Homo sapiens: one gene and its partners. The protein of the gene in region 4 purifies or fractionates together with the protein of the main gene of each other region. This does not show direct contact. Each region holds a gene or a part of one and is shown on either strand. Other genes may lie near its edges.

Evidence for each region.
Region 1: the proteins of PYHIN1 (region 4) and TRIM26 purify together in Homo sapiens (affinity purification with mass spectrometry; 4 studies listed by BioGRID and IntAct, with this or other methods). This does not show direct contact.
Region 2: the proteins of PYHIN1 (region 4) and HEPHL1 purify together in Homo sapiens (affinity purification with mass spectrometry; 3 studies listed by BioGRID and IntAct, with this or other methods). This does not show direct contact.
Region 3: the proteins of PYHIN1 (region 4) and LYG2 purify together in Homo sapiens (affinity purification with mass spectrometry; 3 studies listed by BioGRID and IntAct, with this or other methods). This does not show direct contact.

Annotation. Positions count from the first base shown.
Region 1 is NC_000006.12:30,210,096-30,218,534, forward strand, and holds the start of TRIM26 (tripartite motif-containing protein 26), read right to left. Parts: upstream 3,312-8,439; 5' UTR 3,210-3,311; intron 1-3,209.
Region 2 is NC_000011.10:94,101,203-94,108,722, forward strand, and holds part of HEPHL1 (ferroxidase HEPHL1 precursor), read left to right. Parts: coding exon 1-133; intron 134-1,711; coding exon 1,712-1,818; intron 1,819-3,325; coding exon 3,326-3,548; intron 3,549-4,788; coding exon 4,789-4,928; intron 4,929-7,520. UniProt on the Homo sapiens protein: Is a copper-binding glycoprotein with ferroxidase activity. It oxidizes Fe(2+) to Fe(3+) without releasing radical oxygen species. May be involved in the regulation of intracellular iron content.
Region 3 is NC_000002.12:99,252,276-99,260,795, reverse strand, and holds the start of LYG2 (lysozyme g-like protein 2 precursor), read left to right. Parts: upstream 1-5,129; 5' UTR 5,130-5,193; intron 5,194-5,658; 5' UTR 5,659-5,776; intron 5,777-6,505; exon of another isoform or gene 6,506-6,510; 5' UTR 6,511-6,535; coding exon 6,536-6,578; intron 6,579-8,520. UniProt on the Homo sapiens protein: May act as a potent antibacterial protein that may play a role in the innate immunity.
Region 4 is NC_000001.11:158,927,413-158,934,932, forward strand, and holds the start of PYHIN1 (pyrin and HIN domain-containing protein 1 isoform alpha 1), read left to right. Parts: upstream 1-4,139; 5' UTR 4,140-4,364; intron 4,365-7,520. UniProt on the Homo sapiens protein: Major mediator of the tumor suppressor activity of IFN in breast cancer cells. Promotes ubiquitination and subsequent degradation of MDM2, which leads to p53/TP53 stabilization.

The DNA of each region.
Region 1 (8,439 bases), on a different chromosome or scaffold from region 4:
TCGGGAGGCTGAGGCAGGAGAATCGCTTGAACCCAGGAGGCGGAGGTTGCAGTGAGCTGAGATCACGCCACTGCACTCCAGCCTGGGTGACAGAGCGAGACTCTGACTCAAAACAAAAAAAAAAAACTGCACAGACATCCTCCCCTGCCCTGCATCCGGCTAGCCCCAACTTACCCATCCAGCCCCAAATCCCTCCTCGTCCTACCTAATTCTCTGGCCATTAGATACACTGAACCAGGAAGACAGCCCCTTCTTCACTCCCCACTCTCCACCCATTCCCTTGTACATGCTCTTCTCTCCAGTCCAGCGCATCCTTGAAGGCTTGAATACAATTTGTCCCCTTATCTGTGAGGTGTTTCCTGTACCCATCCCACCTCTGAGTTGAATGTATCCCTCCTCCTGCAGCTTTGCATACACTGTATTTCTACAATAGCACTATCACAGTGCTTCATACAGTAGCACCCCCCATCCGCTAAAGATACATTCATACAGGAGTCCCCTCAATCCTCAGGAGATGCATTCCAAAACCCCCAGTGGATGTCTGAAACCTGTTTCTCCTACACATACACACTTGTAATAAAGTTTATAAAGTAGGCACAGAAATAGATTAACAATAATAACACAACAGAATAACAATATACCGTAATAAAAGTTATATGCATGTGGTCTCTCTCTCTCTCAAACTATCTTGTACTGTACTTACCCTTCTTGTGATGAAGGAACAGTGGGAGGGCAAGAGATTTCATCATGCTACTCAGAACAATGCACATCTAAAACTTATGAATTGTTTACTTCTGGAATTTTCTGTTTACTGTCTTTGGGCTGAGGTTGACCATGGGTAACGGAAACCACGGAAAACTAAGCTATGGATAAGTGGCTGTAATTGATATTTTTATCTGTCTTCTCTCCCACCAGAATGTGAACCCAAAGGTCATGCCTCACTGACCTTTTTATCTCCAATATCTGGCACAAAGTAGGGGGTCTGCAAATGTTTGTGAAATGAATGACCTCCTCTAATTCCAGAGCCCTGCCATCTCCATTCTTCCCCCTTTCACTACACACCCCCCTTTCCCACATTAAAATTCTGCTTCAGCAGCAGGCTTCCAGGGCTCTCTTTAGATTAGACATTCTTGCCCACACACATTACCTAGATATCTCTTGGCCTCCCTCCACACACACACAATTTTGGGGGGAAGAACAAAATTCCATTTCTATAAAGCTGGCAAAATCTAATTCATCCTGATGCCAGCCAATTTATGTTTTTGTCTTCTCAAACCAATTTCCCATTCTCTGTGTCTTTTCTATTCTGATCCTGGGGGGGTCCAAGTCTGAAGTCATTCCAAGAAGCCTCAATACAGACCATGGACTCTCTTCGGGGGTTTGCAGTGTCTTCTGTGGTGGTCACACACAATCTGAGTCCAACCTGTTACTCCCCTGCAGGAAGTGATATCTAAGAAGTCACCCACTGCCTTAGGCCTTCAGTCTCCTTACCTCTTAACAAGGGGAAAATATTTTGCCAAGTTTACCAGGCTATTTGAGGTTGAGGCAAGGTCACATAAGTACGAGTGTCTCATTAGCAAAAAGCTCTATAAAAATACTATGAAAGAGCACAGGAGCCAATGTGAAAAGAGCTCCCAACAGCCAAAGCCACAGTAATTTGAGCAACAAAATTAAGTAGTATTGGATTATAAACCAAAGTATAAAATAAATGTCCCTGAGTCTACACTGAAATTAATGATTGAATAAATTAATAAATTGGGGGAAGAGAGAAACAAATCTTCCATGCAGAATAACTGCAAACAATAATATGTAGATACTTGCCCTCAAGAAGGGGGAATATAACTCTTGGCTCCCTAGGTATGGGCTGCACTTAGTGACTTCCTTCTAAAGAGGACAATACACGCAAAGAGTGGAAAAGAGACTAACTGTACAGTGGAGAAACCTGAAAAACACTATCTCACCCAAATCAATATTAAGTCATAAATCATGTTAGTACATGCCCTTGATACGATGGGATGATAATGGCAATCTACCTCTGTGGTCTTCCTCCCAGTTACCCATAAGCCCAGTCTTAGGAGAAAAACATCAAATTCCAATAGAGGGGCATCCTACAACATACACGACCAGTATTCTTCAATGCTGTCAAGGTCATCAAAACAAGTCTGAGAAACTCCCACAGCCAAGAGGAGCATAAGGAGACATGACAACTAAATGTAATGTGGTAACCTCCATGGGATCATGAAACAGAAAAAGTACTGAGGTAAAAACTAAGGAAATCTGAACACACTATGGACTTTGGTCAATAATAATGTATTGATATTGGTTAACTGCAACAAATGTACCACACTGAGGTAAGATGTTAATAACAGGGGATCCGGTTTGGAGCATGTGGGAAGTTTGTACTATCTTCTCAATTCTTCTGTAAATCTAAAAGTGTTGTAAGAAATAAAGTCTACTTAAACAATAAAATTGCAATTTTTGAAACATAAAAAGCCTATTTTTTTTAAAGGTGATTTTTTTGAACTTGGGGAAAAACATGTTAGGGATTATGATTTCAGCTAAGAGTTAAAAACAGGAGGTTAAGGCATGCATAAACGAATGTCATTCTCCCCTCTTTTGAAGTACACACAAATCGTGGGTCAAAATTTGAAATCTACTGGAGATTTGGAAGTGTGTCCCTCCCATTTACTCCACAGAGTTAAATTTACACTTTTTTTCTAAGGCCAAATAGGGAGAAAATCAGTAAGAAAAATGCTAATGAGCTGGAAGGAGTGAAAGCACAGCTCCAAGTATTTGTGGCTAAACCGGTTTACTCCGAACAAAAAAAAAAAAAAAAAAAAGAAAGAGAAAGAAAGCATGACACTTTGGTCAGGGAGCTGGATTAGTCGCCTATCTACCAGGCTCCAAGCAACCGGACGGTCATCCAGGCCCCGCTTACTTCTGGTTCCGCAGACTAGAATGGATGGGAGTCTGAGTAGGATACCAGAAAGCGAGAAAGACCCAAGAGGAGGGGGAGAATGTAAGGACAAGCAAACAGGAGGGATCTGGCTGGCAGGGAGGACGCAGCGAACTTGACCCCCTCCTGAGCCCGCCCGGGGGCCTGGCCCCGTTTTGAACCCGGGCCCGGCGGCTGCGTTGGGTCGCCCCAAACCCGGTGAGCGTACGAGACTGTTGCTTCGCTGTATGTCTCATGTGCACCCCCTACTCACCGGTCCCGAGCTCCGGGCCGCGAATCCCGGCCGGCACCCCTCCTCTCTCACGGCGGTCTGTTCCGGGTCCCGCTCCTGCACGAGCAACCAGCGCGACAGCTCGTCCCCGCCCCGTAATCTCCCGGCTATTCGGGGCCCTTCGCCGAGATTTCTCCCGGACCAGCCCCGGGATTGGCTCCTGCCGAACTTCGCCATCCAATGGGAACCTTAGTCTCTTTTACGTCACTGATCACCGGGCAAATCCCCAGACAGCCGCGGGCGGTGGGGCACCAGGGGCAGCGAAATGGAAACTGAAATCAGGCGGGACCGAGGCTGCGCCAAGAGCCGCAGCCTGAGTTTGGCGCGTAATTGGGGTGGCCTGTTACACGGTCTAAGGGAGTAAATGCTAAGGCTTAGGAGTCACCTACGTAGGACTCTTGAGAGGGCAATAATCCCCTTTCCACCTCTCGAGACCCCTCACTGCCCAACTCTGGCCTTATGCTGGATCAGGGTCCGAGGGCGCTTTGAGGCGAAGGTGGCGCTCGCCAGGTGCTCAACATCAAATACGAAGTCCCCGCCCCTAACGTGGCCTAAATTTGCTTCCAGGACAAAGCAGGATTTTAGCAAGCAAATACTCTCAGAGACCTATTTACGAAAATTATTACTTCCTAGGTAAAATAACGTTCAACCAGACAGCCATTGTCGCCATTCGACGGAAGGAAAAACTGAGGTTCCAGGAGCTTAAGGGTCTGGGCCCAGTTCAGGGGGGTTGTTTTCGCTCCTCGACGCTGAATTTAGAAACCAGAGGCTACAAAGCGGGCCGAGACTTGGGTTCCCCAGGTCCTTGGTGGGGAGGTTTCCAGGAGGCTCGGGCGCGCCCCCGTCCACGGCCCCGGAAGCTGACGTCGCCGAAGCGTACGCCGCTGCCCAGCCTGCGCTCTCTTCCTGCTCTGCCTGCAGCCGCCGCGTCCGGTCCAGCCGCAGGGCCATGCCCTGTGCTGCGGTTGCCGTGTCCCAGGCGCCGCCGCGTCAAGATCCCCGTCTTTCCCGGCCAGCCAGGCGGCAGCGGCATTCAGCTCGTGCACTGGGCTGGCAGCAGGCTGAGAAGAGGCGGCGCAGGTTCTCCGGGTCAGCCAGTGCCCTGCTCCTAAGGGTAGAGATCTAGCTGGGGACACTGGTCGTCCGCCTAGGCAGTGGTGAGAGGGTGGGCTACAGTTGTTTGGGTATTCATGAATGGAGGAGCTCAGGGTCCTAGACCCTAAAACCTGCTGAATCTTCACCCCTCCTCCGCTGGGGGTAGGGAAATTTGCACTGCATTTAAGCAATGTATAGTGGAGTGGGTGGGACATTCAGAAGAAACCACGCCCACATTTAACACCCGCGTCCTTCCCTTCTACCCCAGCCCAGCATTTTGTCTTTTTCCCCTTTGTCCAGCAGTATAACTCACGCTGCCCCTCCGGGCTGAGAGGAGTGTAGACCTCACCTGCTGAGCACAACTCTGGCGGGCCTGTGCTCTGGAGGTGGTCTCAGCACCTACCTAGACCCTCTTGATACCTGCTTTTTTAGTTGGTGGTGTGGGAAGAAAGTGTGTTTAACATGCTCCTTAAATAATGCTCTGCCGCCGAGCGCGGTGGCTCACGCCTGTAATCTCAGCACTTTGGGAGGCCGAGGTGGGCGGATCACGAGGTCAAGAGATCGAGACCATCCTGGCCAACATGGTGAAACCCCGTCTCTACTAAAAATACAAAAATTAGCCGGGCGTGGTGGCGCGCACCTGTAGTCCCAGCTACTCAGGAGGCTGAGGCAAGAGAATCGCTTGAACCCGGGAGGCGGAGGTTGCAGTGAGCCGAGATCGCCCCACTGCACTCCAGCCTGGGGACGGAGCGAGACTCCGTCTCAAAAAATAATAATAAAATAAAAAATAATGCTGTGCCACTAAGCGTTTTCTCCCTGTCCTGAGGTCTTTGGCCTATTCACAGACCATTCTGGGCAGACTCCAGCCACAAATCCACCACCCCACTTAAAATTCTCTATCCTCTCAGCACACTTAGAGGGGCATGGAAGACTCTTGCAGGGGCTGGGGCTCCTGACATGACAGCTCTGCTTAACTCTCTGACCTCCCTCATGCCACTTCTCCCTCGGTCCCTGTGCTTTCACCTTACACCTGGTCTTGAAACTCCCTGCCCCAGCCCCTTGCATGGCTGCCCGCTTCTTGTCAGTCATGTCTACATCTCAGAAAGGTCTTCCTCCCTCACCCAGTTGAAACCAGTTCCCCATCATGCATTATTCTGTTTCCCTTTCTTCATGCATTTGTTGCCATTTGAAAGCACCTTGTTCATTTCTTTGTCAATGTGTTTATTTTCGATCTTCCTCCCCCTCAGTGTACGCCCCAAGAGAGTTGAGACAACACCTGTCTTCCATGCACATGGCTTCCATGTAAATAAATGTTTGTTAAATGAAATGAGCTCAGTGTGGGCATTTCTTTTTCTTTTTGTAAAAAAATTTTATTATTATTACACTTTAAGTTTTAGGGTACATGTTCACAACGTGCAGGTTTGTTATCATTTAGCATTAGGTATATCTCTCCTAAAGCTATCCCTCCCCCCTCCCCCCACCCCACAACAGCCCCTGGTGTGTGATGTTCCCCTTCTTGTGTCCATGTGTTCTCATTGTTCAATTCCCCAGTGTGGGCATTTCTAAAGCTGCCTGGCCCTGCTTGGCTGGGTATCAGTCATGCACTGAGTCCCTCTCCCACCACACTACATCTTGATTGATACAGCTTCTCAAGTCCAAGTAAGGGTAACAGAAATGGATGCTGGGAACACAATTTCTGCTTTGTGTTGGAGGAGACAGCTTTGGAGCAGCTTTGTAGCTTTGTGCCCCTCTACAGCTTCCTGCTTCATTTAAGGTTCTGAAGCAGAGTTGAAATTCCTTCCTCCAGCTCTCCATTTCTGTGGTCATACCAGATGGAGGCCAAGGCAGCATATGGGGCTGGGTAAGAGTTCTGCGTTGAATTCTCCAGTCTGCCACATTCTGTGAGGCTTTGGGGCAGCTGCTCAACCTCTGTGTGCCACAGGTTCTTCTTCTGTAACATGGAAGTAGCTAGATCTGCTTCGTACGGTTATTATGAGGCTTAAATGTAAAGCTTTGAAATAGTGAATCAGTGCTGACTAGGCCAAAGGGTATGGTATAATTATTTGCATTTGAAATAAATATCTTAAATGGAGCAAGAAGATTTAGTAGGTATATTCCTTGAGCAGCTCTGGTTTAACCTCAGGAGGAACTAAAGGCCGCTGTCTAAAAATGAGTTTGTATATGACAGGGTACAGGAAATGCCACCCCAAAATATGGCACCTTGGAAATTGAGAAAATAGCAGAAACAGGAAGGTTTCTCTGACCTCTTGCTCCTTTCTGCCCTGAAGCAGGCCATAGAAACTAGAGTTCCCCTCGCCCCTTCTTCCCTGAAGCAGGCCACAAAATCTAGGAAGGTCACTCTCTGACCTGCTCCCTCCTTCTCCCTCCTTCATCTGAGGCCCCTTATATAACAGGCATCCTCTCCTATGCCCTGAGGGAGGGACTGCCACACAGGTATGCCAAGAAGAAACTGAATAGACAGGCCTTTCCAACTTCTCAGTTTATCACCGTTAGCTCATACACTTTTGTCCTTGCAATCATACATCTGCCTGACTGTCTATACAACTACACAAATGTCCCCATTTCTTTGGGTTTTCGTTTCTGAAAGTTCCCATGTCATGTAAAACTTGGATAAAATAAATGTGCATGCTTTTCTCTTGTTAGTCTGTTTTTTGTTATTGAAGTCTCAGCATAAACCTTGTGATGGGTAAGGAAAATATATTAGTTTTTTTCCCCTAAGTTTAGTATAAACATATTGAGCTAAATCATACCATTCAGAATCTCAGGATTTTAAGAATACTAGAGTGCTTGGAAAGAGGCCTCCAAACAAAAAACAAACAAACAAACAAACAAAAACTTGAAAACATGAAACTCCCATTGGTAAAGATGCAAAGAATCTGTTTGAATCTTTTGTGTGAAGGATACCTTGGTATTAGGGCCAGAATGAATAAATGAATATCTGTAAAGGAAAAGGTAAAAGTTACATCAATGAAACAATTTTAAGCCAACATTTCTGTTTTCTGGTAGAGGCATAAGCTAATAAATAATTTTGTGCTACTAAAATCTGCCTGCTTTTGTGCTAAGAACTGGCTGCAGGATAAAAAATAACAGGTTTAACTGTCCTTTTTAAAAGGAAAAAAAGGCATTTTGAATGCTAATAGCATTAACTACTGGGTTTTGAACAGAAAGCGTAGGCTGAACCAATCTCTTATATGACTTGGGATGTCATTTAAAATACTTTGTATTCCAAATTTGGTGACTTTTAAATGTCTATTAGCTCAAAAGTTAGTGAAAATATATTGTATAATATATAATGACAAATTCAACTTAAAAAAAATTTTTTTTTTTTTTTTGAAACAGGGTCTCACTCTGTCACCCAGGCTAGAGTGCAATGGTGCAATCATGGCTCACTACAGCCTCGACCTCCTGAGCTAATGCAATTCTCCCACCTCAGCCTCCTGAGTAGCTGGGACAGATGTGTGCCACCATGCCCGGCTAATTTTTGTATTTTTTGTACAGACAAGGTCTGGCCATGTTGCCCAGGCTGGTCTCAAACTTCTGGACCCAAGCAATCCTCCTGCCTTGGCCTCCCAAAGTGCTGGGATTACAGGCTTGATACAACGCGCCCGGCCGACACTGTAGCATTTTCTAATAGGCCTACGTAAAAATTATCTAATTCTCTAGGGTAGTTTAACTTTGATTTAGTATTTTAGGGTATTTAGAGTACTCCTTAGGGGTAGACATTAACTTGTAGAAAAGTGATATCAATGGAAATGATTCTTGGTCAATAGCAATGTCAATGAATTTTGTTCAGTGGAGGTATAGAAGATGTATGTCCAGTGTATGTATATTCAATCTTCCAAATTCTCTTTGAACTAGTTCTTTTTTTACTAGTCTCTTGTTAGTACATCTTTGATACATGCTCACTTTTTCTTTGTATAGGATACTGTCATTGACTTTTAAAAATTATATTTTGGCAATACATTGCATTTTATTATTATGTCTCTTAATCTTATTATAACAATCTACCCTTCCCTTATTTTCATTCCATTAATTTGCTGGAGAAGCCAGTTCATTTATCCCATAGAATGTTCCCAGTACTGGATTTGGTTGATTG
Region 2 (7,520 bases), on a different chromosome or scaffold from region 4:
ATTCATGCTGAGGTGGGCAACACCGTCCTGATCATATTTAAGAACAAAGCCAGTAGGCCCTACTCCATCTCAGCCCAGGGTGTGGAGGAGATGGATAGTGGAAAGCAATTCCAAGTGCCCATGACAAAACCAGGTAAGTTGTGTCAGAGGTCTGCTCCATCTTGAAGAAGAACATTGGCGTCAACTCTTTTCTGGTCTCAGAGGTGTCTTAAAGAGCTCATCTTAATGTCAATGTGTTTCAGCCATCATCTAGTCACTCTGGTATGAGATCATCATTCATCCAATGACCAAATGTTTAGGAATTTCTAGGGTTCCATTAGAAACCTCCATTAGGGACCCCATTGTCAACATCCCCCACCAGAGTAGTACATTTGTTGTAATTGATGAACCTACATTGATACATCATTATCCCCTAAAGCCCATAATTTACATTAGGGTTCAGTATTGGTGTGTATACTCTAAGGGTTTTGACAAATGCACAACAACATGTATCCACCATTTTAGTCCTATAAAGAATAGTTTCACTGCCCTAAAAATTCTCCGTGCTCTGGTGTTTATTTTTTCCTCTTCCTTAACCCCTGGCAACCACTGATCTTTTTACTGTCTCCATAGCTGTTCTTACAGTAGCTCCCCCTTATCACGGTTTTGCTTTCCTTAGTTTTAGTTACCTGAATCAATCTTGGTCTGAAAATATTAAGAAATTTTGAGATAACTTCAATTAGAGACAATAAAAAGATATTTTGAGAGTGAGAGTCTACATTCACATAGCTTTTATTATAGTGTACTGTTATAATTGTCATATTTTATTATTAGTAATTATTGTCAATCTCTTACTGTGCCTAATTTATAAATTAATTATAGGTATGTCTGTATAGGAAAACACATAGTATATATAGGTATGGCACTGTCTGTGGTTTCAAGCATCCCCTGGGGGTCTTGGAATGTATCTCTCCTGGACAAAGGGGGACTACTGTAGTAAACATAAAAATTAACACATTAACTGCCTTCAAAATGAAGCATTATCCTGTGTATTTAATGACATTATTTCATTTAATCCTCACAACAATTAGAAAACTATGATGACCAACCCACTTTACAGATAAGGATACTAAAGGTTAGTGACATTAGGTAGCTGGTCAAATGTGGGATAAATAGGAAGTCATAGGGTTGAGATTTGGAACTAGGTCTCTCTGATTCTGGTTCTCACCAGATCTCACCTGCCCACTTGAGAAGCTTTTAAAAAACACTGGCACCAGAGTCCTAGACCCTAGACTCTCTGATTTCACTGTCTGGGGTGAGGCCTGAGCAGCAAGGGCTTACAAAGCTCCCTGGTGACTCCCATAAGAGGCCAAAGCAGAGGTCCTTGATGACAAAGATGTGCTCAAGGACAGCTCTTGGGAAGGAGATAAAACATTTAAGGAGGAAAAACAGTGAGGTATAAAATGTTTTTATTTCCTGAATACACACCAGTTGACAATAGAAAAATGCAAACTAGAGGGAAGGCTGGAGCCTGAAATGACAAATCTGCCATTTCATTTTGAAATAGTAGAAATCAAGATGGGAGTTTAATAAGAACATTTGTAATGAATGAGTAATTCTCTCCAGCAATAAACATTAATGAAAATATATAAAGACCTGCTTATATTTCTTCAGATAAATCATCTGAAACACAGATAATTCTAATAAATTTTTTCCATTTCATTTATTACAGGAGAAGTAAAAACTTATAGATGGAATATCCCTAAAAGATCCGGTCCAGGGCCTTCTGATCCCAATTGTATTCCATGGGTTTACTATTCAACAGTAAACTTTGTGAAGGTAAGGTGGAGAAAGCAACCAAAAGGCTTAAAATAATTTGGATGAAAGTTGACTACTTGGGTCATCACAATTTGGGTTGGTATATGTGAAAGCGTATAATGATTTAGAGCAAGGGTCTCATACTATGGCCCATTTACGAAATCTAGACATGCTGGACGTTTACATTGTCAATGGTTGACTTGAGTAGCTGCAACAGAGACTATATGGCCCACAAAGTCAAAAATATTTACTATCTGGTGATTTTTTTTTTCCCAAAAAAAAAAAAAAAAAAAAAAAGTTTGGTGACCCTTGACTTAAAGTATGGGGAATAAAAACAAAATCCCAATGTTTCAATTACCAAATTTAGAACTTAAAAAGATAAAAGGTTTGAAGCAAAAGAGGATATGTAAATATACAACAATAAAATAAATATAACTTAGAGTACAATTTATGTATGGTTTTGGATGTGTGAAATCTGTTTATTTTAAATGCATTATTATCAGGGCTACTAGGGCTCAGGAGAAGAAAGTTCACTCTAAACATAGTAACTGAAACTACAAAATTGTTTGAATGATTAATGATCTAACTTTGAAATAAAAGGCAAAGATTCAACATTGAATTTGAGCCAGGTATGTGTATGTAAAACAACCACAGTCTTTAATTACATGCCATAAACCAAAGTCCAATCTAAAGTCGTTATTTGATGTAAAATGTAAGCATTGCCTATTAAAGAAAAAAAGGGAGGGATTATCATAACCTTCCTCTTAGGTATTAGATGGCTTGTATTAATGTCTTTGAGTTATACTGGACAGTTCTAGAGTTCAGGAGATAGAAATACAAGGCACTTGAATAAATAAACTTACATATGAGAATTATGGGAAAATCCAAATTTATTTATGCATCACAACAAATACTTATTGAGCACTTGTGATGTGCAAATGACCCCACCAAATACTATGAGAGATGCAGATACTCTTGTCTTAAAGAAACTTATAACTTTGTGGGAAAATAATATGTCCACACTTGTAACTGTAATAGAGCTCTGAATCTGGTGAATTCTATAGGAGTGGCAGGCTAACTAAAGTACTATAGAAGGTTTTGGAGGGAGAGTCTAGGAAGAAAGAGCATTATGAGCACAGCTGAAAATAGGGAAGTAGAGGGAGTGTTTGGGACATGTTGAGAGTCCCATTTGGCTATCATATGGGGTCCAGTAGTAAATCAAGGGGTAGCCTAAGTCAGAAAATTTCATTAGGGGAGCACATGGAGGGCTCACAGACCTGCAAGGGTTTGTATTTAATTCTGTAGGCCACGGAAAATCACTGAAGACTTCTAGATACGGGAGTATAAAGATTACTGTGATGGTGGTCAACAGGATGGGCTGGAGGTGGGGTGAATCAGAGCTGAGAGAAGAATCAATTTCTAGTCCAGGGTGAGGTATTATGACCCTACACTAGAATGGTGGCAGGTGGAATGAAATATTATTAAATTACTTAATGGCTCTTTTAACTCAGTTTATTTTTTCTTCCAGGATACGTATAGTGGTTTGATGGGTCCTCTGATTACATGCCGAAAAGGAGTCTTGAATGAAAAGGGAAGAAGAAGTGACGTTGATTATGAATTTGCTCTCTTGTTTTTGGTATTTAATGAGAATGAATCCTGGTATCTGGATGACAATATTAAGAAGTATCTCAACAAAGATCCACGAGATTTTAAGCGCACTGATGATTTTGAGGAAAGCAACAGAATGCATGGTATATCCAAAGTTTAAAAAGAAGCCTATGTTGAGATAAGCTCATAGGAATTCCTGTAAATGTAGGAGGCTCCCAGCATCCTTCTCTGAGCCTTTCCTCCTTCCCAGGGGCACCTGGACTGAAGAAAGTCCTCTAATGCTTTCCTTCAGACTGAACCAGCCTAGCCACTGATTGGCTGGCAGCAAAGTCATTGAGGCTTTGTACTAACTTGTAGGGACATGTATTTCTGAATCCTGGGATCTCTAAGCTCTAAGACTGTAAAGTAATTCTTTAAAAACAAATCATCATTTATTGTCATATTTTTATAAGAATATGCCATAACTTCTATTTGTTTAAATTTAAGGGCCAGGTTTAATTGTCTCTGGGATATGAAACACTACCATCAAATTTCTGTTTTAATGTATCTGTGTTACTTCTACATAATTTAAGGTAGTTTGTTGGTGGGAGTAATGTGTTCACATTGACACATCCACAGTTTCTCACCAACAGCTATTTTTGACCAAAAGTGCACAAAAAGGCCTTGCCCAAGGTCACAAAGCTACTTGTTAATATAGATTAGAATATAGTAGCCTGATTCCCCATTCAGCTACTCTTTCCCCTACCAGTTTTGCTTTCTTCTCCTAAAGATGTCTTAGTATGCTCTCCATTTTTAATGAATGCAGGTCATTTGGTTGCACCACAATGCACAGAATCAAAAGTCAGTAGACAGTGGAGGAGTGGGAGTCACCATCATGTAAACTCAGTTTGCTTTGGTCATTGTTAGGTCATGAGCTCAGCCCGTGTGAAGCTCTCTTTTATTTTTGGAGATTCAGCCAGGCTTAAACTATTCTCAACAAGTGAAATATTAAGAAAATACCTTCTAAGTCACTCAATTTTTATTTACATAAACTTGTTTATGCCTTGATTTGTTCTCTGTAGAGTGGTATAAATCTGACTACCTCTCCAATGAGACTGTATTTCCCTTCATAAAGAGATTATGCTGAATAAACAAACAAAACACTGCCACCAAGATACGGCTTTAAAACTGCTATTTCTCTGTTCTCGCTCTCTTTGTAGAAGGATTTCTCAGTTATCTGAATTTTGGGTCTAGAATGGTAGGACACTGCTAGGGGTGAGTGAGATTGTTGCATGTTTACTAGACAGATGAAAATATCAGTGACCTAAAGATCTTCTGGAAACATTTAAAAAATCAGCTTATCTTTTAACTAACCAAAGGTTATTTTCTTATCACCTTTTAAAGCCATTAATGGAAAGATTTTTGGGAATCTCCATGGCCTCATAATGAACGAAGATACAATGACAAACTGGTATTTGTTAGGGATAGGAAGTGAAGTGGACATACATACCATCCATTATCATGCTGAGAGCTTTCTTTTCAAAGTAAGTATAAGGAAAGTGCTTTGGGAAAGACGTTTTTGAACTAACAAATTCAATGTATTTCCAGTGGAAAATAAGAGTTACTTGGCAATAATGCTTGTGAGGATAGGTGAGAATGGAACAGAATAATGTGATTGTACCGTTTCCCTGGTGGATATTTCTTTTCTTTTTTTTTTTTTTTTTGAGACGGAGTCTTGCTCTGTTGCCCAGGGCGGAGTGCAGTGGCACAATCTCAGCTCACTGCAAGCTCCACCTCCCGGGTTCATGTCATTCTCCTGCCTCAGCCTCCCGAGTAGCTGGGACTACAGGTGTGTCCCACCACGCCTGGCTAATTTTTTTTGTATTTTTTAGTAGAGACGGGGTTTCACCATGTTAGCCAGGATGGTCTCAATCTCCTGACCTCGTGATCTGCCCGCCTCGGCCTCCCACAGTGCTGAGATTACAGGCGTGAGCCACCACGCCAGGCCTGGCTATTTCTTAATATGTATATGTATATTATTGTGCTTATAAAAATCTCTCCAAGCCTCAGGTGAGAGTTTTCTCATTAGTGATCTGGGGATAACTCTGACCACCCTGGAATATGCTGTTAATATTGTATATGAAACCACGGACACTGACAGCATTCGTCCCTTTTCCTCACCCTTCCTTTTTTCTTTCCCTTTCCTTCTCCCCACCCTTTTCTTTTTCTGTGTGATTAGCTAACAGAATAGCTCTATCCAGTAAAGGAGCTATTTTGAGCTCTGGCCTAAGCCCTGAAACTTTATCTTGACTTTTGCCCTAGTGAGCTGGGCTGGACCATGTGTGACTTTCTACCCTCTAGCATCAAGCTGTACCATATGGGTGGTGCTCACTGTACAGCAGAGCCATCTGGGGAACTATGTAAAAACCCAACTGCCAGGCCCGACCCAGACCTGCTGAATCAGAATCTCCATGGAAAGGTCCAAATAGTCTGTCATCCGAAGTTCTCAGTGCTTTCTACAAGGAAGTGGAATAGAAAAGAACAATCATATCCAATGTGTGGAGAAAACTGGAATTGATCTTTTCTAGTTAGACACGAATAAACGGTAACTTTAATAAAACATTTAATATCCTTTCTCCTTTGTATATTTCAACGTTGTTTACGACACCAAGTATTAGCCTGCTATGATTAGAGTTTCACATATTAAATGGCTATGCTGCTTTTCAGAATTTGGCTTTTTTAAACTCACATTTTAAAAATTATATTAAAAATTTATAAAATTTAATACACAAAATTATAAAAATTTACATATACACTTTAAAAATAAGATATAATTTACATTGAATACAATTCACCATATTTAGTGTACAGTTCTCTTTTGATAAGCACATACAGTAGTGTAACGAACAACAATCACAATATAGAATACTTTTATTTCCCCCACAAATTTTACCATTGCACCCTCTAGTGTCAACTACTTCCCCATACTTAACACTTGTCAACCACTGTCTCTATAGTTTTGCCTTTTTTGAAAGGTTATGTGGAAATCATAGGTTGTAGCATCTTGAATCTGGCTTGTTTGATTTAACATAGGCATTCAAATTGTATCCATCTTGTTATGTGTATCAGTGGTTTGTTTCTTGTGACTGTTGAGTAGTATTCCATTGTAAGGATATAATGCAGTTTGTTTATCTATTCTCCTGTTGAGGAACATTTGAGTTATTTTCAAGTTTGTTTATTACAAATCAAGTCATTACAAACATTTGTGCACATGTTTTTGTGTGAACATATGTTTTCATTTTCCTTGAGAAAATACCTAGAAGTAGGATTGCTAAGCCATGTGATAAGTGTATGTTTGATTTCATAAGAAACCACCAAACTGTTTTCCAAAAAGGCAGTATCATTTTGCATTTCCAAGGAAATATACGAGAACTCCATATGTTGCACATCCACATATGCAGTTGGTATTTTTAGTTTTTATTTCATTTTTTTCCCTTAGGCATTCCCTCCTTGGGGAGGGGATATAGTGGTATCTCATTGTTTTTCATTTACATTTTCCCAGTGGCTAATGATATTGAGCATCTTTTCATGTGTTTGTTTACCATCTGTCATCTGTAAATCTTTGGTGAAGTGTCCAAATTGTAAGCCCATTTAAAAAAATTGGGTTACTTGTTTCCTTATTGTAGAGTTTGAGGGCTTTATATATTCTGGATACAAATCCTTTTTCAGTGATGTGACTCACAAATATTTGCTTCCAGTTTGTGGCTTATCTTTTCATTCTCTTAACAGCTTTCAAATAGAAGTTCTTAATTTTTGATGAAGTAAAATGAAGTACAATTTTTCTTTTTTCTCTTTTATAGATCATACTTTTGGTGTCATGTATAAAAAATTTTGGCCTTACTGAAGGTCCCAAAAAAGGTCTCTGTTTTCTTTTAGAAGTGGTATAGTTTTAGATTTAGGGCTCTGATACATTTTAATTTTCATATGTGGTTCAAGATATGAAATAAGGTTCATTTTTTTTTCATATATATGTCCAAATGTTCCATCACCACTCATTGAAAAGATCATCTTTTTTTCCCACAGAATTGACTCTTTACTTTTGTGAAAATCATATTGACCACATATATGTGGGTCTA
Region 3 (8,520 bases), on a different chromosome or scaffold from region 4:
ACAATGGAAGAGGCAGTCCCATTCCTGCCTCAGGCCAATTTCTATGCTTAAGCTTTTGAACTAGCGTCTTCAACATCATTACCTGACCAAATAATCCTATTGTTTTTTGTATCCTCATTTTCTACAGCATTTGATTATATTCAAGTCACTCCCAGGTTAAACCATGACAAAAGGACTGTCTTTGACACAAGTCCTTCTCCAGATACTGCTCCAGCTCTTCTCTCCATCACAGGTATAGTGAACAACTATAGAGCAGTTTTTTACAAAATCATCCAGACTTCTAGGTAAGTGACTGCCTGGGGTCAGAGGGTGAACAGGAGAGAAGAGGGAGGGGAGAGAAACTGGGAATGACTGCTAATGGTTGTGGAGATTCTTCCATGGATAATGAAAATACTCTAAAATTGATTATGCTGATGGTTGCAAAACTCTTATCAACATACTAAAAACCATTGAATTGCACACTTTAAATGAGTGAAGGCTATGATATGTGAATTATACCTCAAATCAAGCTGTTTTTAAAAAATAGCTTACTTGGCCGGGCACGGTGGCTCATGCCTGTAGTCCCAGCACTTTGGCAGGCTGAGGCAGATGGATCACCTGAGGCCAGGAGTTTGAGACCAGCCTGGCCAACATGGTGAAACCCCATCTCTACTAAAAAATACAAAAATTAGCCAGGTGTGGTGGTGGGCACCTGTAATCTCAGCTACTCAGGAGGTTGAGGCAGGAGAATTGCTGGAACCTGGAAGGTGGAAGTTGCAGTGATCCGAGATCATGCCACTGCCCTCCAGCCCAGGCTGACAACAGTGAGTCTCCATCAAAAAAAAAAAAAAAAAAAAGTTTACTTTTGGCACAATGAAAGACATAGTTAGGGGATATCATGAGGCAGTCTTTTTATGGTGATGGGTCAGTTCTGTATCCTGATTATGGTGATGGTTACTTGCATCTACCTGTGGGATAAACGTTCACAGTACTATACGCTTCTGAAATATAAATAAATATTTTTTTTAAAAGAGCGTGTAAAAACAAACTGGGGAAATCCAAATAAGGTCTGTACCTAAGTTTACAGTATTGTATAATACTAATGGTAATGTTCTGGATTTGACATGTACTATAGTTATGTAAGACATTGCCATTGGGGGAAGCTGGGTGAAGGGTACATGAGAACTCTTGGTACTATTTTTGAAGCTTCTTGTGAAATTTAAACTATTTCAAAATGAAAACGTTACTTTAAAATTTTGTTTCAGACTTCTCCCTTCTCCTTTCCAAACCACAGGGAGTCCCTTTTTCAAACAAATATATTCCTAGACATGGTTGAATGATCCAGAGGTGGGCACCTGACCCAGCCCAGGTTCATTGGAATTTTTTCCTGGATTTTTTTTTTAACTTGTGTATTTTTCCATTATATCGTTATACTACAACTGTTAGTCCATTCTTCTGTTGATGAATTTTTTGGAGTGTTTCCAGTTTTGAGCTATTATGAATAAAGCACTGTAAAAATTCTTTTTTTTTCTTTTCTCTTTGCAGAACTTACAATCTGTGAAGATTCTCATACAAGTCTTTTGGGAGACATTTTTTTTTTTTTCATTGCTCTTGGGTAAATAACTAGAAATAAAATTCCTGAGGCATATAGTTATTTACTTTGTTAGAAACTGCTGAACAGTACTACAAAGCAATCATACCATTTTATACTCCAACCAGCAATGTATGAGAGTTCTGTTTTGTTTCATATTCTCACCAATATGTGATATAGCTAGTCTTTGGTTTTAGCCTTTTTAGAGAGTGTGAAATACTGTCTCATTTTGGTTTTATTTTGCATTTCCCTGATGTGTAAAGATGTTTACCAATTTTTCATGAGCTTTATTGGCCATTTGTATATCTTCTTTCCTGAAATGTTGGTCAAATGTTTGACATTGGAAGACCAATAATGCAACCATATAAGTGGCTTCTTCAACAGGGCATACCCTGCATTTTACCTATCATATAGTAGATTAAAACCAAGACAAGAAAAGCACACAGCAGTTAAAGCTTGACATTGATATATCCTGGGGTTAAGTTGAATGTTTTAGTGAAATTTTATGGAAGGGCTCCCCTTCTGCCTTCTTACCAGCCATTGGCGCCAAAGTACCTTTGCCACATATTCTTGGGCAGCTCCCCCATTTTATAGGTTTCAGAGCTGTGAAACAGATGCTTGGGCTGCAGCTGCTTGTGTGGCTGTTTCTGAACTTATCCTTCCTCCACTCCTACCAGGCAGGCTACAGAGTCCTGACAATGAATAGCTCTTGCTTGTCCTGCCAAGTTTTCTTCATGGCTGGAGAGAGACTTCACCTCCTACTTCCTGTCCTATAATTCAGCTGTTTATTTTTCCTGAGTGCATGGATAAACAAACAAATGAATAAATCAACAAGAAGCTAAGCCATCAGGACTTGAGTGCAAACCCATCATGATAGTAACTGGCATCTCTATGAAGCACTGTAGTTTATAACATGTTTTTACATATAAAATTTATTTTTGTCTTCAAAACAAAGTCATGGGGCATTATTATCATCTCCATTTTACAGATGAGGAAAATTAAGGCTCAGGGAGGTTAAATGAGTTGGCTATGGTCATCCTCCTTGGCTGTTGTTCCTGAGAAGGGAAAGCTGTGCCTGGGATTCACAAATAATGACATGGCGGAGACAACCCAGTCTCTATTAGCACAGACTAGTGTTGGGAGGGAGGCAGGTGGGGACGCAGAGGGCGAGGGGACCAAGGGAGCCTGAGGTGCTGGATTCCTTTAACTCCCAAAAGTGCTAACCTAGGGTAGCTCAGGGCACAAGGGCAGGTCTTTGTGTGGTATGAATTGAGAAGTCTTGCCAGGAACTCCTACCAGAATCTACTTCCCTGGCTATACAGAGTACCTCAGTTTTCATAATCATTCCTCTCCTCCTAACTAGGACAGTACTGCTTAAACTTTCCCATTGAAGTTTTCCAATTGCTGAGGCCATTTAGTCGTTAGGGATGATTGGAGTCTCCACCACTGAAGCCAGGAACCCCAAATCTGTTAGGACTCCCCAGAAGCTGCCAGAGAATTGCTGCACTGAAGAGTCTTAGGAGCAGGCAACTGATTTGAGGGGTAGGGGACCAGGCCATAGAGTTTTATTTGTATAGCACAGAAATTGCTTGCATATAGATTGTGTTTTTATTTTGGGGACTGATAGAGATTATGACAGGTGCCAAGTTCCCTTCAAGCCCCTCCTGGAAATAACAGTACAACTTACATGTAGTCATTCTTGGTATCCCTGGGAAGAGATGGAGAATTATTCAGTACATTTCTTCTTAGTGACAAGAAATTTCTAAGGTCATTATACAATAGTACCCACACTTAACCATCCACTGGGTCAGTAGGGTACTGCAGTTAAGAGTTAGGCTTCAGAATGTAACAAACTTAGGTTATGCCCCTTCCTATTATTCTACCAGTCATACCATACAAGGTCAGTGCGTATTAACTACATTATTATTACTGGTGGAGAAAATATAAAGTGACAAAAAACCACTTTGGACTTAGTTAACTTATATTAATTTGCATTTTAGAAATTACAACAGCACCTACAAACATTTGACAGATAGTGGTATAAAAATCTGTGAGTGGTGTTATTTTTCCAGACCACGGACAATGCTTTGTATCCAGATTGATTTGGACCTGTTGCAATGATTGCTCTGCAGAGGCATTTGTCCATCGTGCTGGCACTTCGATACAGTGGAAGAGCATGGATTTTGGAATCTTACAGGCCTAGATTCAAATCCTGGCTCTGTCACATGCTAACTGTGCCATCTTTGACAAGTTACTTAGCTTCTCTGAGTCACAGTTTCCTCATCTCTAAAATAAGGGATAATACCTGCCTCACAGGGCCAGTGGAGGATTGAGTCATATAATATCCATAGGAACCTGACTAATGTTGGGTGTCAAATAAATGTTCAATTGTTCTCTCACAGCTTGAGTGAACAGAACAATCCACATCAGTTTGAAAACAATTTTGGTTGAGTTGCAGAAGCCTGGACATTAAGGACCTCATACCTAGAAGGACTCGTAGCCCCACTAACTGAGAGCAGAAGGATAAGTATTCTTCACATTCAACAGTGCTTTAAATGTTTTATTAACAATGTCTTCTTCCAGTGCATGTAGGGAGAGCCCCAGCCTCCACCTACTCTCTTTTACCTAACTTATCATTCGTAACTTCTTAATCTCCCTTTCTTGAGCTTTCTCATTGCACTTAGCCTGGAAGCCTCAGGTAAGTGGCTCTACTCACCCTGCAGTGAAGTGGGTCACGGGCACAATGTCGCTGGGTCATAGACTATGGGTTTCTAAGGCCTGCCTCAGGGCAGTTAGACTCCTGCAATATCCCTTATTCAAGAGTGGTCCTGACTGCAGTGTTGATGGTGGTGGAGCAGACCCTCCATGGGTCACTTTCCTGAGAGTCAGGTAGGAATCATCCATTGGCTCAGAACAGCCCTGCCACTCTTCCAGGGATGGAAGGCTAGAGGCCATGCCAGAGACGTCTGTTCTACAAGCAGGAAGGCAGGCAGGGCAGAAGTGAATGCCAGTGGACTGTGCAGACCTCAGCTTGGGGAGGGCATGTTCTCCTGGGAGTGGAGGTGGTTTTATTGCCAGGGAGCTGGGAAGTTGCCTGTGGTTTTGTCTTCCTGTTCCCTGTACAGCTGCCTTCCACCTTTCTTCACTCAGTGGATGTGGGGGAGGACTGTGTGCAGTCTGAGAAACTGGACACGCTTGTGGAAGGACCCAGACCAGACTTCTTCCTCCCCTCAGCGCAATGTGCTTTGCCTGTTTCAAGAACGTCCCTTCCATTTCCTGTTCCTGGGGCTGCACAATATGCTTCCTCTCTTCCTTTGGACATAAGCCTGAAGAAAGATACTCTCTTCTTGAAGAAGTTTTCATCCCTGGCTATAATCTTTTTTCCCATATCCTTAGCAAGTATGGGCAAATGAGCACTCACGTTGCTACTCCCTGGTTTTGCATTGATCTCCTAGAGCAGGTGGCCACACTTGCACCTTTTTCTCAGAAGTGGGATTGGAGTAAGGAGCCAAGTTCACCTATCATGATCATGTGACATAGTGGTTTGAGATCATGTGACATACTGGTACGGGGATCATATGACATTGGAATGGGAACAAAAAGCAGGAGACCCAATATTTCAGGTAAATAACCAATCCAAGAATAAAAATTGCTAGTATTTCCTGTTATCCTTTTAAAGTGAATTATCTGTTTCTTATTCGCAAATTTAGAAGCTGTTTGGCACAATTTTAGATATCTAGAAACAATCTATCAAAATATGCCTCCTGAGCAACTTGGGGGTTCATTAGGTTAATTAATTAATAGTGGTTAATAAGCCCTTTGAAATCCTCTTATTAATTGGGTCACCTAAGTCCTAAGTACTATTATAACCAGGCCTAATGAGGTCAATGGTTTAAAGAGAGGGTTTTAAACCATATATAAAGCTCCTCTAATGATCATTGGTACAGGACGAAGGTAAGAAAAGCCAGGTGAGTCTTCATGCTGGTGTTTAAAAGTTTCCTCCACAGCAGTAGAGCCACGCTGATGTCTACTCTGTTGAAGCCAGGTGCGCAGTGATCTACTGACTAATGGATTCTCCAATTGTTAAGCCTATGTTACAGGACAAAGGCCGTCGCTTTGTAAAAGCTTGAAGTGCAGTTTGCTGCTGAGTACAGAAGACCTTTGCAAACAGAGAGGGGAGATTTTCTCTGTAAGGTTGCAAACAAGGTTAGTGCTGGCCTTCTTATGTCTTGTAAAACTTATAAGCTACCATTTGAATGAAACCAAGAATAGAGTTGATTGAGGAAGAAATGGAGCAGAGGAAACCTCTTCTAAGTCACGTTCTCATGCTCCTGTTGGTATTTTGTTTTATTTTGTTTTCCCTACGGAGACCCTGGTATAAGAATGGAAACACCCAGGCATGGTGGCACGCATATGTCGCCCCAGCTACTCAGGAGGCTGAGGTGGGAGGATCGCTTGAGCCCAGGAGTTTGAGGCCATAGTGAGCTATGATTATGCCACTGCACTCCAGCCTGGGTGACAGAGCAAGATCCCATTTCTAAATAAATGAATGAAAGACCAAAACTGATCCTTGAAGCCAGGGGTAGGGTGAATAACTAGAATGAAAAGATCAGTATTTTTTTTTTTAAAAAGAAAGGGAACAAAATTGTGGTGTTACCAAGCTTAGAGGTGGGATGGGAGTGTATATTTAGTTACATATGTAAGATACGCATGACTCATGTCAATATGAAATTGGATTGAAGTGAGATTAGGAGTTTATGCTTAAGAAAGAGAGTGTGCCAACAAACTATGTACTGAGCCTGTGAGAATACTATCTTGAAACAGGGAAATGAGTAGTGAATTGGAAATAACTCTAAACTTTTTAAAATATCAAAGCAAATTTTTCTTTAGGAAATTTTCAGGTTTTAAAATTAACCAGTTTCTATTTCAAATCAGAGCAGGTCCTGGAAGATAAGATTCCCCGCCATGTTATCCTCCGTGGTGTTTTGGGGACTAATTGCCCTCATTGGTAAGTCACTGGCTGAGATTTAGCATTGTTCACAGGGTGTCCACAAAAACCTCCAGCACAATCATGAATCAGAAAGAGCAATGATTACCTGTAATGGAAGAGTGGGCTCTCATTCTGACCAGCTTGGCCATTAATCAACTATTATTTCTATAATTAACAGTGTGTTCTGCTTGCTAAGCAGGTGAAAAACAGGATCTATGGGAATTTCAAATAATCTAATATTTATTGATCTGCTTACTTCCTGTCTGACAATGCACCTATCAGGCTGGATACCTTACCGAGAGGTATATGGAACAGTGCCTTGGAAGCAAAACACATGAAGAGACAATTATCAATGCCAAGCAGTGGATGAGAGTTCAATGTGTATAGGTGGGAAAAAAGCACTAGTCTGGGAAAGGTTTGGGAGGAAGAGCTCACATCCAACTAGAATGCTCAGATGTGAAAGGCTTTTGGGGGGGACATGTCAATTGAAGGATGCTTGGTGATTTAATAAGAAAAAGGAAGAGCCTGCTGGATGGGAAGAAAGATTTCAGTAAAAAAGCAGAGGCAGAAATGAATGAAAAGTCTTTGGGTCAGTGTGGTCTGGACAGACGAGGGGGTTTCTGGGGGGAAGGCTGGAAAGATAGGTTGGTAAGTTGGTAAGGGATCTTGAATAAGAGAATGTGAAAACTCTGACCTAAGCAAAATGAAAAGCCATTATGAGCAATGTTCAAGTTGTCTTTAATTATAGAATGGTGACTGAAAGGAAAGTGTTTCTAAAATGTTTAATTCTAAATTTGGAAAAACAAGGCTACCCGAAAGTAATTTCCAGTTACTTATGGTCAAAACAGGGCAACATAGTTTTAAATTTTTACTCTTTTTAGATTGCCAGGTGAGAGCAGAGTTAAATAGCCAGTAGATTAATTATGAGCTACCATATTAGCTGTGTATAGCTGAAAGGTGACTCTTAATTTAAAAAGGGCTTGTGTGTTTATAAGGCCTACACAGGCAGCGTAGGGTCCATGGTCATATTCCAGTTCCCTTAAAGCAGTGGTTCATAAACATGTGTAAGAGTCAACTGGGAATGCTGGGTAAAAGGCAGCTTCTTTCGCCTTATACTGCAAGATTTTGGTGCAGTAGATCTGGTGTGAAAAGCCCAGTGATAAGCCTTTTTTTTTTTTTTTTTTTTTGAGACAGAGTCTTGCTCTGTCGCCCAGGCTGGAGAGTGCAGTGGTGCGATCTCAGCTCACTGCAAGCTCTGCCTCCTGGGTTCATACCATTCTTCTGCCTCAGCCTCCCAAGTAGCTGGGACTACAGGCGCCCACCATCATGCCCAGCTAATTTTTTTGTATTTTTAGTAGAGACAGGGTTTCACTGTGTTACCCAGGATGGTCTTGATCTCCTGACCTCGTGATCCGTCCGCCTTGGCCTCCCAAAGTGCTGGGATTATAGGTGTGAGCCACCACGCCCGGCCCAGTGATAAGCATTTTTAATAAGCTTCCTGGGTAACTTTGATGCCTGTGGTCTGTGGGCCACACAGTGAGCCTGGCAAAGACTGCCTCCCAGTGAAAGGATACTGAACCTGTCAATATAAGGACACTTGATCCAGATAATTTAAACAATCCCTTTCTGTCTCATTCCTTCATCCATCCAACTATCCATTCTTCCATTCAGCAAATGTTTATTAAATGTCTACTTTGTGCCAAGCATTGTTCCAGGTGCTGAGGAGGATATAGCAGAGAAAAACATCTAGTATCTGACCTAATGAAATTTATCTTCTAGTGAGAGGAACGAACAGTAAGAGAGTGAGAGGAAAAAGGGAAGAGAGAGGGAAAGAGTGAGAGGAAGGGAGGGAGATAAAAACATTTCACCTGTAAAAATTTTTGGGCTGGGCACGGTGGCTCACACCTGTAATCCCTGCACTTTGGGAGGCCGAGGCAGGCGGATCAAGAGGTCAGGAGAT
Region 4 (7,520 bases):
TAATGGTTCTTTTGACTCTTGAGACTCTGTTTTTCCTTGTCTTTAGCATAACTTGCTTTTTCTTTCTTTCTTTTTTTTTTTTGTCAAAAGGAAGACATATATGATCAGGTAATAGGAACTGAAATAAACAGACCTTTAGTATGAGATTTTTTGTTAGTCTGGCTAGTTGTTAAAACGTTATTTACTTTTTGTCCTAAATGTCGGTGCCAAAGGCTTCAGAATCCTTTACTGTCCTTTTTGTCTCTCCTCTTGCCTTTGAACTTCCCTGAGCATCCTCCTCAGAGAGTCTACCAAGAGTAATCAAGAAAAATAAGGGAGGATAATATAAATGGCCAGTATCAGGAATGTAAAGGGATGGCACTACAGATATTAAAATGGTAATAAAAAATTATGAAAAATATTATGCAAATAAGTTTACTTACGTAATTCCTGTAAAACAAAAATGTATTACAAAAAAAATCCTGTGAAACACAACTTACCAAAACTGTCTTGTAAGGAAATAAAACAACTAAATATTTTTATATCTATTAGAGAAAGAGAAGTTGTAACAAAAATCTTTCCGTAGTGAAAGTTTTGGGAATAGACACTTTATGAATTCCATCAGACATTTGAGGATAAAAGTTTACCATGTCTATACAATCTGTTTTAGAAATGCCAGTTTGCTGTCACACCAAAATTAAAGATATTACACAGAAACTAAACAAAAACCAACTCTCACATGAAAATAAATGCAAAAACACTTTTAAAATATTGAAAAATTATACTTACCAATATACTTATCAATATGACAGAAACTAAACAAAAACCAACTCTCACATGAAAATAAATGCAAAAACACTTTTAAAATATTGAAAAATTATACTTACCAATATACTTATCAATATGACAGAAACTAAACAAAAACCAACTCTCACATGAAAATAAATGCAAAAACACTTTTAAAATATTGAAAAATTATACTTACCAATATACTTATCAATATGATAAATTATAATGCATCATTAAAAGTGTTTTATCTCAGGGATATAAGATTGGTTCAACATTTAAAACTCAATCACCTTTCCCTCTTCCTTGAGAAAGAGAAATCTATTTACTTGAGAGACAAAAGGAGAAGGCACCTGATTGAGGTGGCTGATGGCCATGAATGCATAAAGCAATCTTGCTAACTGAGGCTCTCAACAAATGGGTTTTGTTCTGACTCTTAGGGATAATTAGAGAAAGGTTTTAACACTCTCCATTTCCATTTTCCTCTCTGAGATCACAATAATTATTACAAGGCTTTATCCAGGGGTTTACAATGGACTTTAAAAGTCCCAAACGTGGTTTCTTGGTGTGATTGTGTAAGAGAAAAGCTTCAGCTGACTTAAATTTAAAAGAGTTTAACTGAGCAGTGAATGTTATTCAGGCAGCCTCCCAAGCCAGAGTAGGCTCAGAGACTCCAGCACAGCCACATAGTGGAAGATTTATGAAGAGAAAAAGAAAAGTGAGATACAGAAAATGGACATGAGATAAAGAGCTGGATTGGTTATAGCTCGGAGTTTGCCTTATTTGAACGCGGTTTGAACAAGTTGGCCACATTTGATTGGCCAAAACTTGGTGATTGACACAAGCATATACTACAGTCTGTTTACACTTCCATTTAGGCCATCATTCACGCTGTATGAGAAACCTTTAGGCTGAACTTAGAATATGTAAGAAGGCAGCTTTAGGCTAAACTTGATTTAACATTGCTTTTGATTTAACAAAGCAAAAATAAAAATAAGTAATTATTTTTGCTTTTCTCCTTAGAGGCTTTCTGCCGTCTCCTAGACTGACGACTGGGTACAGATTGACAAACGTTTTCTATAATAAGCCATACAGCAAAATCTTTACACTCTGCAGCCGGATGGACTCTGTTGCTAGTCAACTCTTCATTGCACCATGAAGTAGATATTGACAATGCATAAGTGAGTAATCACAGTTGTGTTTCAATAAAATTTTACTTACAAAAGTGGATGGTGTGTTAGTATTGTCCCACAGGCAGTAATTTACTAACATCTTGGTTAGAACATTAATCGGGTGGGAACTTTTCCTGAGGACTTTGAATGAGCATCGGAATTAGTACTTCAGATGATAAAAAGTCATGAAGGTCCATCCAAGACTTTTACCCCCTTATCAGGAGCTCTCGTATGTTCTATTAGTGAGCTTTCTGTGTGATGGCACAAATTGCAAATTATTGCCCACTGCTTCAGAATCAGCACAAATGCACATTTTTAAAGCATTTCTTTGCTTCATCTATTACAATTTTATCTGCACAGTATGGATTATGGAGCAATGTTCTGAATTGTCTTCATTGGTGACAGTAATTTGTATGTTGTATGCTGGAGTCCTAACCAAAGGCATTACTCTACATGAAATGATTACCAAAAAGGGGAAACAAAAATGTCCTGAAACATGGTAATTTCTACCAAGTTTCCTCTACTCTCTGACCTTTGAATTGGGGTAACCTGACCTTCCTAATATCCCTCTCTACCTACTATCTTAAGACCAACTTAGTGTCTCTACATTAACAGCAACGTAAACCTATAAAAGAAAACCATGAACACTCGAAGGTATTTTTGTGGCCATCCTTCCAGATCCTCCTTGCTTTTTCTTAACTTACTTTTGCTTTGATAAAATTATCATATGGCTCCAAATCCAGACATCAACTATCCTCTCCATGACCCTAGTTTGTACTAAGGCGATCAGCTTTCTTCTGTTCTGTAGATGGCCTCAGATCATTTGTATTATTTGTGAAGGAAACCAAAAATACTTCTCAAAATACTTAGGACTGTTAAGTTAAAGACAGAAAATGGAGGGGAACATGCTGCCTCAGGCACTATTTGCCTGATGGCAGGACATAAATCCGTATTTACTGGAGAAAGCACTTGCTTTTCAGCCCGGAGAAGGCGCCACCAGGAACCTGAGGAATCTGGGAACAGATTTTACTACCTTCCCACGTTTTCCCACCTTTTAAATGACTGGAACTGCTTTCTCCTTTGCTTTTCACTATATAGAACGTATGGCTCTTTATTGAAATACTATTTAAACAAGGTTTCTAAGCCACAGCCTGGAGAGAGAAATACTTTTGAACTGAGGCCTATCCCTTGTGATGAGTAGAGCACACATTAATAAACTGCTTGTTTTTCTTTTGTTAATTTGACGTTTGTTTTCAGGAGAGTGTCAACTAATAACCTAAAAAGGGAAATTTAAAAAAAACTTGTTTTCTCCCCTACAGCTGTATTTCGGGCCCCATTTTCCACTCATGGCCACATCCTGCTTGCAGATCTGCTGCTGGGTTAACACAACATCATCTGCCAGTTGGTGTCGTTTATTTGACATCTTGGGGTTTTAGTACTCTGAAGGACACCCACTGCCCTTAACAGAAAAAATACTGCTGAGCAAAGGGTTTAACAGGACTCTCGGTCTACCAGAAGTTCAGTGCATTTTCCAGGATTTTCAAGGCTTCGATGCTGTCATGTTGTGAGCCCACTATCCACTTGTGTTTTTCCATGAATAATGAAGGAAACCTGAGGAATCATGAATGTAATCATTGAGGTAAAATAACCTAGTCATAGTCAAGAGGACAGCTAGTGTTAAACTCCTTTATATATATTTGAGAAAGGATTTATATATTCATAATAACTTTCTGATCTGGAAAGCCCTAGGTTTGTCAACTATTAATAACTGGGTGAATGCTTCAGGTAGTATTTAAACCAACTGCTATTTCATAGCAGACATTCTCCCATGCAGGAGATGCAGTAAAGTACTGGTAGCAATAGATGCTCCTACCAAGATCTCCCCCTGCAACCGCACAGGAAAGGAGGGAGAAGAAACCACCTTGCTTCTCTCATATTTGACAATCATTCATCGGAATAGAGGTCCCTAATGTCCCACATGTAAGTCTGCTGGTTAAGAAAGTTCTAAGATTGGAACTCCATTCAGATATCAACATTTGTAAGAAAAAAAATTTTAAATATAACTTTGATACAAATTTTACTTTGATTAAGATACCTACAGGAAAGAAACTGTTCATTTTCTCTAACAGGATGGAAAGCAAAAAATATGGGTGGGAGGAGTCTGCACGTTGTTTCACAACTTCTCTCTCCCCAGGGCAAAGCAGAGTATGAGGAAGCCAGCACTAGTCAAGTGACTCTAAGAAGGGCCATTTTCCCTTGTTGTCTTTGAAAATACTTCATTTTCTTAGCATTTCAGGAGATTATAACATCCTGTATTTCAGTTTCTGAGAGCTTTACTGACTGATTTCCCTATTCAAAACAATCCTCATTTCCTACATTTCTGAAGATCTCAAGATCTGGACTACTGTTGAAGAAATTCCCAGTAAGGTGAGTACTGTGGGTATTTTTTATAGAAAAGATCTAGATGCTTCCTTGAAAGCCACAAAATCACAAGGGAAAAATCGATATTGGTTCTTCAGGGCAGTGGGGTGAGGGCAGTAGGGCTGGTATCAACTATATTCAGAAAAGTGAAAACTGCAGTTAATACTTCCAATTCTTTACTTACTTCAAAGATAGTAGATATCCTTTATTCTACAACTGGGGCATGAATGAAGGAATATGCATTTTGACCATTGCAGATTTTAAAACAAATTCTCTGAGTATATATTCTCTGAGGTTAGAAAGCTTGGTGGCCATTGGGGTCTGGGCAAAAGACAAGATAATGATTTCATTCTTTTTTATGGATGCATAGTATTCCACGCTGTATATGCATAACATGGATACGGCTAGAGAACATTACCCTAAGTGAACTAACACAGGAATACCAAATACTGCATGTTCTCACTTATAAGTGGAAGTTAAACATTGAATCCATATGGGCACAAGATGGGAACGGTAGACGCTGGGGACTGCTTGAGAGGAAAGGTGGGAGCAGTATGTGGGTTGGAAGGCTATCTATCTGGTACTATGTCGCTACCTTGGTGATGGGATCACCAGACAACAAGCCTCAGCGACACACAGTTTACTCATTTAACAAGCCTGCACATGTACCCTCTGAACCTAAAATGAAAGTAGAAGATAAAATAAGACAAGATAATGATGTGCACAAAGTATCAGGAAATAATATTAAGTAAAAAACACATCTAGACATACAGCTGTATTTTACGGTATCTCAATTTTACAAAACATGTTCTCACACAAAAACATATGTGAGAACATTTTGTAAATAATATTATTCTACAAGTGCAAACACATAGTAGAAAATGTATCCATTTTGCAAACACAATTATTCAAATAATTCAAATAATTCAAATGTGTCAATATTTTCATAAGTATGTTTAACTTTTACATTAGCATCATTCTATACCAGATGTGAAAGGCAGTTTTTTATTCATTTTAAGATTACTTCCTGCCCTCCTGAAAGTTAATGATGTTTTATTTTTCTAGTGGCAATGTATAGGGGAGAGGCATGGAAGTCAATTTGAAATAGATTTATATTGTCAAAGTTCAGAATTTTTAGAAGACTTTCTGTATAGCCTGGTGCAATATCTCAGTGTACTTGACTAGAATATGAGATTTTAAATGTTGATTTCAGGATTTATATATGTTAGATAAATATTGCTATCAATTATGTTGCTCAAATTTGTAAAAATGTTTTTTTACCTTGTTCATTTAGTATTGGAAGATATAATATAGAACCTCCTATTATAAGACGGTATTTTCTTGTACTCCTCTCAAATTCATATATATAATATATAGATATGCTCACATGCATAGTTGTATAATGTATATTATGTGTGTATGTGATCATGCATACATGTTTCCAAACATAAACATACACATATAAATATATATATTTGTGGCACCGTGTACATATGTGTGTATATGAAGATAAATATATTATATAACATTATATTATCATGAAGGACTATACAATAATGAAAAATAATATACATTTATTATTATTAGATAAATCTATAATTTAAATTATTGTATCTTCCCAGGAATTCAACCTTTTACCATGTGGTATCTGATAATACTCTTTGTCTTAAGATCTTTTAAAAATGATTCTAGCATAGATAAGCTGGCTTTCTTCTAGTTTCTCCTTGCATGATAATTTAAATTTTTTTTCATCTTTCAGTGATCTTTTACTGACAACATACATATAGAAATTTTAAATCAAATTTGATAAAAGTTGTCATTTAACTAGTTAACCTCTTTATGTATAGGCTAATAATTAACATATTTTGGCCTGCTTCTGCTATCTTCACTTCAATTTATAACACTTCTATATTCTCCTACTTGTCTGTTTTTAAAACTTATATTTCCATCTCACCCTTTAAGACAATTACATTAGTAAACTCATATTCTTTTTCTTCCCTCCCTCCACCATGTTGGTATACTTTCTGTTTCTCTTTTCTTTGATCAGGGCTTTCTTTTTAAGTCATAGGCACACATAATCAAGTTCGTTTTTCATTCTTACTTGTCTTTTGGCCTGCAGCTTTTTAAAATTTTTTTTTAATTTTCTATTGAAAAGTACTTCCAAAAATGTTTCTGTGTGCATCTTTGTCTGGAAAAACTACTGAGGCCTTCAGGTTCAGAGAATAGTTTTTGAGGATCTTATGTTTAAATATCACTTTGTTTAGATTGAAATTCTAGTTTTAAAATTATTTTTTCCTTCAAGACAAGATGAGAGCATTTCTTTTGTACCTGGGGGGCTCGGTATGTTTTGAAAATCAGAACTTGGAGGTTTATAAAGATTACTTAATGCACATTTTTCTAGAAACCCCAGTGTTATCAGTGTCATTACTACAAAAGCAAAAGCACTAATATTTCAGCATCAAAACATATGAATATTTGTGTTTAAGTGGAATAAATAAAAATCATACATAGCCTTCTGTAAGCTCACATCTGGTTTCATTTTGCAAATAAATCGTGTTGTCATACTCACAAAACAAATCAAAACTTCCCATTTCTAAACTTTTTGTTTAGCAATTTATATGGGACTTTGGGCCAGCATTATATAAAAATGATTCCATTCTCCTCTTTCAAGTAGATTTGTTGTTGAGAATCAGTTTCAATCTAATTTTTGGATCTTTGCAGGTGATCTAAAGCCTTCATTCTCGGAGGCTTATGGAGTATTTATTTGTTTTTTATGTTCTTCAGTTTCACTATATGTCTTTGTATATATTTTTTCCTTCATTCTATGCTTATCAATCTGAGGACACTCATGTTCTCTCAAGAAGAAAGCAATTAACAGCCCCAGGAATTTAAATATCTAAATTACACAAGAGGTACACAAATACATGTTTTCTATAATTAAAATATTTGTTTTTGTATTTATTTTTATCGAGGTGGAGTTTTGCTCTTGTCACTCAGGCTGGAGTGCAGTGGCATGATATCTGCTCACTGCAGACTGCACCTCCCGGGTTCAAGCAATTCTGTTGCCTCAGCCTCCTGAGTAGCTTGGATTATGGATTACAGGCACCCACCACCATGCCTGGCTAACTTTTGTATTTTTAGTAGAGACGGGGTTTCACCATG